3 separate regions of the Homo sapiens genome follow, and regions 1 and 3 are each linked to region 2. Evidence: fine-mapped expression QTL. Tissue or cell type: left ventricle. Region 2 holds a variant in brackets; each other region holds the start of a gene. All regions are shown on one strand. Distances are between the middles of the regions.

Region 1 (2,607 bases), 55 kb after region 2:
TTTTGGTAAATGTAAAAATATTCGAAAGTATTCAAATACTTCCGGGTCTAGCCTTATAACTTCAGTCTTAACGGGCTGCACCAAGACCTTACAATAACTTCAAAAGGCAAAAGATGTGTAATGAAAAGGACAAAATTAGAACATCCACTTAGCAACTTCAAAGGTGCACACACACAGGTAAAAAAAAAAATCAAATCCAAGACCTACAAACTTCCCGTCAAATGATGAAATGTTAACGAACGTTTAGAGCGGACGAGAAGTCGGCTGCACTCCAATACATCTCTACCACGCTAACAAATACTTTAAAAACCGGAATACACAAAGTCAATTCTACGCCATCGCTCAAAACAAAAGCAGATAAATTGTGCACACATTCTCGCTGAAAATCACTCCGACTTCACGCCTCTAAACACCAAAAGAGCAAGAAAACTGTTTCCTGGGTGAAAAATACAAAAAAACTTCGGTCTGAAAAATTCATCAGTTGGGATGCGACTCCCCCCACCTTTTTCCTCCTCCTCCTCCTCCTCGTCGTCCTCGTCCTCTTCCTCCTCGCTCTCCTCTCTGGGACCGGGCATTTCGGGTTCTTTCTCGGACGCGGGCTGGGTGGGGGTTCCCTCCCCCTCCGCAGCAGGGGCCGAGGCGGACATGCTGTGAACCTGCATGCGGGAAGAAAGCCGGACGTCTCGGTCCTCCTACTCCCGCAGGCAGGACCGGGCGGCCACCCTGAATGATGCTACCCTTCCCGCGGGACACCTGCCCTGAAAGTTGCCTCCTCCCATAGCCGGGACCGCAGCGCTCAGTCCCCAGGGGCGGCTTCCCTCCCGCTCCGCCGCCGCCGTCCAGGGATTCCCGAGGCGGGAAACCGCGCCCGCTGCCCCGCGTGCGCGCGCGCCCGCCCGGCCTGCGCTGTTCCCGGCCCGGCCCGAGCTGCCGGCCCTCCACGTCCCCTCCCCCGCCCCAGGCCGCCGTCCAAATGGCCGCGTCCCTCCCCCGTCGGCCGCGGCAGGGGCGACCGGGCCTCCGGCGTCCCGAAGCAGCCCTTACCGCGGATTTCGGCCGCCGCGGGCCTGGCACGCGAGGGCACGAGGAGGTTCTGGGAGGCGGCGGCGGCCGACGCCGAGGAGAAGGCGCGCGGGCCGCTGTCTGGCGTGACGCTCGCGCCGCGCGCTCGGCTCCCCAGAATCAACAAGATTTTCAAAATGGCGGTTCGGGAAGGAGAGCGGGAATGCGGCGACCAATCAGGGCCGCGAGCTGGGAGTTGGCGGGCGCGGGGCGGGGGAGGCGGGGCGGCCGGGTGCCTCCGCGGGAAGCTCGGGCGGGCGGGACCGCGAGGGGTCGCCTCGGCCGCGGGCGGAGGGATGCGCGCGCGGGGCTCTCCCCGGCTGCGCCTGGAGTGTGGTCGGCGCTCGGGCCCCGGAGTGCGGGCGGGCTGTGTCCCGCGGGGCGGGCGGGAGCGGGAGGCGAGGCGGCCTGGCAGCGCGGAACGGAAGGACGCTAGGGGGCCTGCGTGTTTATTGTTTCCACGGTCGCTTCCTGGAAAAGATGATGAGCAGTCCCGGGCCGCGGAGGGGCGCGGCGGGCGCGGTAAAGAAGTTTAGAGATCTCCGAAGTCGCTATCGACAGTGTTACTCTGAGGCGGAGGAGAATTAATCAGCGGTCTCATCAATGCTCCAGAAATCATGCTGGGTGATAGATAACTCCCAAATCTGTATTTCTGAGGACCGCATCGCTTGTAAGGTGCACCGAAAGGAAAAAGATCCTACCTGCCACGTTAAAGGTTCACATAGCCAGCCACATAGATTTACACCCCTGTAAATATAAGGGGAGAGGCTCCCTCCCACCCCATTCCTTCTCCTCTCCTCTCTCACACACACTCTCTGTTTTATAATAGAGGAAATATGTTATTTGGCCGGGTCCAGACCCTTCTCCCAGAGTTCTAGGTCATCTATGCAGATGCTTTTTACACATTCAACACTGCAGACACTCAAAGCAGTATCTTCCCTGCTCAATGCTGCCTTCTTTTGTATGTGATTTCCTTTATTTTCTCCCAACTCTTCAACCACTAGCTCACCTGAAGGATCCTTGTACTCAGTGGACTTAATAGAAATGTGATCAGTGAAATTTGCCTGGACTCTGGGTTGCAGGACAAAAATTAGACATTTCCTTTGAATCTTCCCTTTTCCTTTTGTTCCCCTTCCAAAACATACGCGAATAGTGTCATTTCTACCCTCAAACGGTATGCCATTTTCCACACTATTTATCCCACTCAAATCCTATCCACACTCCACAGCTCATCTCTCCTTCTTGCTGCCTGCAACGTGGTTGGGAGTGGGGGGTTGTGTTTCACCCCTATTTGTGTTACAGCTCTTTCAATCCTACCATTTGGCAGGTCCTGAGTTCTGGTCCTGTGTCCAGGAAGAGTGAGGCACGCAAACAACTGGAGGGTGAGCAAGGTGGACAGGAGCTTCACTGAGGGACAGAACAGCTCTCCTGAGACCTGAAGTGGGTTGCTCCTTTCTGCAGGGGGGTTGTCCCGACTAGCGTCCTGCCCTCAGTGGAGAGGAGACCCATAGTGGGCAGCTCCTTTCTGCAGGCAGGTGGTCCTGA
Region 2 (2,500 bases):
GACTACAGGCACCCGCCATCACGCCTGGCTAATTTTTTTTTTTTTTTGTATTTTTTAGTAGAGATGGGGTTTCACCCTGTTAGCCAGGATGGTCTCGATCTCCTGACCTCATGATCCGCCCGCCTCGGCCTCCCAAAGTGCTGGGGTAACAGGCGTGAGCCACTGTGCTCCGCCCAAATAGAAGTATATTAAAGGCTCTGAGAAGTCCTGCATTAAAGAAATCTATTTTACTTTTATTCTGTGCTCTCCACATTTTTTTAAACCACGGAATCCTTCTTCAGATCAGGAAAGTTCTGTTTTCATCTTGAAATCTTGAAACTATCAGAAGTACTTTCATATGGCTTAAATTTTTTGTAAACAGCTTTATAGTAGGTGAACAGTACAAGGTACTGCTGAATCAAATACCTGAAATCACACTGAGATTTATAGTATTGGAGAATAAAGGTGCCTCCTTGGGGTAGAGGGGATTTAGTAAACCTTGAAAATTTAAGTTTAGTTATATCTTAAGTGACTATGAAAAAATATAATTGATGAACTATCACTAGTTCCTAGACTAGCTATGCTTCCTACACTTCAGGTATCTAAAACTTATTTCATAGTCCTTGATTTTCATACAGAAGTAAAGGACTGCATGTCACATGGGAAAGACAGGTCTAGGGAATGAGTTAGTCGGGGCAGGGGATCCTAACATTATTCCTGCCATTAACCAACTCGGAGATCTTGGGCAGCAATCCCCGGGCTGCACGTCGGAACCACCTGGGAGGCGCTTACAAAGAAAGGCTGGAAAGCCCCACCCTGATGCGTTCTTGTTGAATTGGCCTCGCTTTTTTGTTTGTTTTTTTCAGAGACAGGGTCTCAGTCTGTCGCCCAGGCTGGAGTGCAGTGGCACAGTCATAGCTCACTGTAGCCTCGAGCAACTGGGTTCAAGGGATCCTCTCACCTGAGCCTCCCTCGAGTAGCTGGGATTACAGGCATGCACCACCATGCCCGGCTAGTCATGTTTTTAAAGCTTCTCAAGTGATTCCAGTGTGCAGCCGTGGTTGAGAACCTTGTCTGCAGTGACCTTTTCTGTAAGCTCTTAATAGGTTTTGCCTGGTG[G/A]TAAACAGTGTTTAAAAATACTACCTTTTAAAATTGCAAGTCACCCGACAGTTCAGCCTCTGCTGTTCTGTAGCTCCACTTCTTGGTGTCCAGGACAGCAAGCTGGTTTTAACTCCCCTGCTTTGTTACTCTCTGCCTGACCCTGGCCAGTACTTGTGCGTTTCTGTGTTTGTATTCCAGCCTTCTGGAGAAATTAGGGCACAGCTTCAGGCTGCACTTTGAAATGTTTAAAACAAATATTTTTATTGTAGCTAGCACGCACCACAGTTTGCATTGGAAGTTTCCCCAAACTTGTAAGAGAATAATTTTCAACCCAACGTGATAGACCGATGAACCTCCAGCAGACTAACTCAGTCTAGGCTGCTTCCATTGACATCTCGCTTTTATTACTTACTAGGATGTGTTTATATCATTTGCCTATTTGTTTACCCAAGGCTTTTCTTTCTTTTTTTTCTCTTTCTTTTCTTTTTTTTTTTTTTTTTTTTTTTTTTTTTTGTTTTACAGGGTCTTATTCTGTTGCCCAAGCTGGAGTGCAGTGGTGCAGCTTGTAGCTCACAGCAGCCTCGAACTCCTGGGCTTGAGCAGTGCTCCCACCTCAGCCTCCTGTGTAACTGGGACCACAAGCACATGCCACCACACTCAGCTAATTAAAAATTTTTTTTTTGTAGAGACAGTGTTTCCCTATGTTGTCCAGGCTGGTCTTGAACTCGTGGTCTTAAGCAATCCTCTTGCCTCAGCCTCCCAAAATGCTGGGATTATAGGTGTGAGCCACTGCACCTGGGCTACTCAAGTTCTTATGCTTTTCAGTGCTATTTTGTCATTAAGAAAACATCTAGATTTGTGGGCGTGGGTGGCTCATGCCTGTAATCACAGCACTTCGGGAGGCTGAGGCGAGAAGATGGCTTGAGGCCAGGAGTTTGAGACCAGCCTGGGCAACATGGTGAGACCCTGTCTCTACCAAACATAAAAAAATTATCTGGGCATCGTGCTGCACACCCATGGTCCCAGCTACTACAAGAAGCTGAGGCAAGAGGATCACTTGAGCACAGGAGTTTGAGGCTGCTGTGAGCTGTGATCATGCCACTGCACTCCAGCCGGGGCAACAGAGCAAGACCCTGTCTCTTTAAAGGGGAAAAAAATCTAGATTTTATTTATTTTCTTGCAATTTAATTGGATAGTAATTGGTTTTTTGTTGTGGTTTGCCTCATTTTTTTTGGTTGCATGGTAATTATCTATAAATAGATTATAAACTTCTTGATGATAGAGAGCATATTTTATACTTTATAAAAATATTTTCATGTGGCAGAAAATAGTGACAAAATCAGAGAACTCTGAACTTCCTGTGATCCTAGAATTGAGAGTTAAGCCAAATATACAAAATCTTTGAAGCCTCAGGTAGATT
Region 3 (2,607 bases), 54 kb before region 2:
AAATTTCATAAAATTGAGAAGAAACTTTCCTAAGGTGCACACATCTTAAAAGAGTATGACTCGGTGAATTTTTTACATATACATACACCTGTGTAACCACCGCAGAGCAAGACAGAATATTTACAGCACCCCAGTTTCCCACATCACCAGGGATCACTCACTATTTGGCAGTACTTATTTTTTCCCAAAAATCACTAATACACCAGGCTGGGGAAAAAACCGAGAGTCCGTTTCTATAAAAAAAAATTTGAAAAATTAGCCAAGCGTGGTGCAGCGAGCCTGTAGTCCCAGTTACCGAGGAGGCTGGGGCGGGAAGATCACTTGAGCCCAGGAGTTCCAGGTTACAGTGAGCTATGATTGTGCCACTGCACGCTAGCATGGGCGACAGAGGGAGACCCTGTCTCTAAAAGAAAAAAGAAAAAAAAATAATTAAAACACACCAGTGCTTTGGAAGCACTTTAAATCCTGGACATTGGATTCAGGTCATTTACTGTCCGACCTCGTTATTCCCAGTTTCCGCTTCTGCCCTGAACCCCACTTCACAGGGCTGATTGCTAGGCTGTCTACGCTTGTAAGAATTCCTGGGAGCCCTAGCACGGGCGCATACACTCCTAGCAAATCGTTCCCTTTCTCACCCGCACCCTCCGCGCCCGAGTGAGCCTACCTCGCTTACAGCTGGTTGCCGGCCATTGCCTCCGCCACCAATGACGTCCCCAGGGGCGGGTACGCCTCCGCTTCCACCTCCGCCACTTCTCCGCGCCCCGCCTCCGCCCGCGCCCCGCCTCCGCCCGCGCCCCGCCTCCGCCCGCGCCCCGCCTCTTTCCCGCGCCCCGCCTCTTTCCCGCGCCCCGCCTCAGTTCCCGCCCCCTCTCCCGGCGCCCCGTCTCCACTCCCGCCCCGTACCTCGTTGCACAGACTCCACCCACTTCCCCAAGCGCCGGGGTTTGCGCAGCGGCGGAAATGGGCAGGGCGGAGCGAGCGCTGCGGCTAAAGCGAAGGCGGGGACCCTACCCATCCCTAGTCCTGTCGGCTCCTCCCACCCCGGGTCACGCCGTGACAGGGGCGGAAGCGGCGGCGGCGGCGGCGGCCGAGAAGAGGCTGGGGCTCGCGGCGCGGCTGCAGCCGTCCTGTGCGCGCGGCGCGCGGCTCCGGAGAGGCGCCCGCAGTCCAGGGCGGCGCGCACCGCCTCGCTGGCGCTCAGAGGTGGGAGGCTCCCCACTCCGGGGGCGTGCGTGGGGGCCGTGGCGGATTTCGGGTGACAGCGTTGCACAAAGCAGCTTGGTTGGGGTGCAAGCCCTCCCTTTCCCCCTGTGCAGCGCCCCTCGCCGTGGTGGGAGGTGGGCGGGTGCCCCAGGGACGGATACCTCCTGCCCCGGATTAAAAGAGGGTGCGGGGTGGGTATCTGTCTGAAGAAGGGGGAATTCCCGGGCTAGGGTGTTGGGGCGTGGGGTCGCCGGGTTCGTCGCGATGTTGCCGGTCGGCTAACCCCCCTACAATGTTTCCTTTCTGTACAGCGGTGCCTTTTCCCCGAGACTCCCGGCACCTCTTCAGCGCAAAGGTGAGCCCCGGGGCAGTTGCTTCTCCGACTTCGAAAAGCTTCCGAAAGCTTCTCGGAAAGCGAGGCGGCTGCAGCTGGCACCGGGAGTTTGGGGCTCCCTCCTGGGGACTGTCAGAGCCGCGGGAGAACCCCACGGTCCTGGAGTAGGAACTCCCTCGCTTGTTCTTCCCGGCCGATAGGGTGCGGCCAGGAGCCCGCACAGCCTTGCAGGTGTTGTAGTAATTCTCTGGCACAGCCACCACGCGTTGAGACTTGATGAGCATTGCCAGGTTGCTGGGGTAACTCCTCTGGGATTGGAGACCTGGAGGAGGGGTGGCCCGATTAGGGTAGCTGTTAGTCAACGGCCGGGCAGCTGACAGGTGAAAGAGGAAGGAAGAGGCCGACCCAGCTGTAGAAAGTTGGGGTTCAGTGATGTGGAAACCAGCCACATAGAAGTCCAGTCTTCCCTTGGGTAAGCCTGCAGGACTCCCCAGTCCACTCCAGTTGGGGAATCCCCCACACCACGTATACACACATAACTCAAGGCTTTGACCAGTTTTGTTTTGTGTTTTTAAATCTATTTTAGTGGCAGAAAGGCGAGTGGGAGAGAAGGCTTCTTCAGGAGGTACATGAGAAAATTACCATCAATAATTATTTGCCTTGCTGGGAGAATCAACAAAAGATATCTAGGCAATTGGGGATTTAATATTGAATCATTGAACTGCATGTTGAATATTGAATAATTCAATATTGAATTATTCAATATTGGGAGGCCGAGGTGGGCGATCACTTGAGGTCAGGAGTACTTCAAGACCAGCCTGGCCAAGGTGGTGAAACCTGGTCTCTACTAAAAATACAAAAATTAGCCGGACGTGGTGGCACACACCTGTAATCCCAGCTACTCGGGAGGCTGAGGCAGAAGAATCGCTTGAACCCAGGAGGTGGATGTTGTAGTGAGCCGAGATCGCACCACTGTACTCCAGCCTGAGCCACGGAGGAAGACTCCGTCTCAAAAAAAAGAAAAAATCTTTTTGAATAAGCTGCTTCAGAAAAACCTAGGGATTATTATA

The links. PIP is the estimated chance that this variant, and not a neighbour inherited with it, causes the effect.
Region 1: DEK starts here. The variant in region 2 is fine-mapped to the expression of DEK in left ventricle (GTEx, PIP above 0.99). The same link has a PIP of 0.9 or more in atrial appendage.
Region 3: KDM1B starts here. The variant in region 2 is fine-mapped to the expression of KDM1B in left ventricle (GTEx, PIP above 0.99). The same link has a PIP of 0.9 or more in atrial appendage.

The regions. Positions count from the first base shown.
Region 1 is chr6:18,263,341-18,265,947 of GRCh38, forward strand. DEK (DEK proto-oncogene) reads right to left here and starts at 1,190. Exons shown (of 11, transcript NM_003472.4): 1 at 1,045-1,190; 2 at 503-656. The coding sequence starts at 647. It overlaps LOC124901270 (a long non-coding RNA gene), which reads left to right and starts at 1,192. Exons shown (of 2, transcript XR_007059486.1): 1 at 1,192-1,737; 2 at 2,390-2,607. RefSeq lists an enhancer at 314-865 and silencers at 751-810, 871-1,230, 1,271-1,550.
Region 2 is chr6:18,208,780-18,211,279 of GRCh38, forward strand. All of the region lies in intron 17 of KDM1B (lysine demethylase 1B), which reads left to right. Among named protein-coding and RNA genes, the nearest start is that of DEK, 54 kb to the right of the region's middle. The variant G/A (reference allele first, on the strand shown) is at 1,099.
Region 3 is chr6:18,154,369-18,156,975 of GRCh38, forward strand. It overlaps KDM1B (lysine demethylase 1B), which reads left to right and starts at 1,054. Exons shown (of 22, transcript NM_001364614.2): 1 at 1,054-1,203; 2 at 1,515-1,558. It overlaps TPMT (thiopurine S-methyltransferase), which reads right to left and starts at 709. Exons shown (of 9, transcript NM_000367.5): 1 at 665-709. RefSeq lists a silencer at 755-1,314 and an enhancer at 1,755-1,994.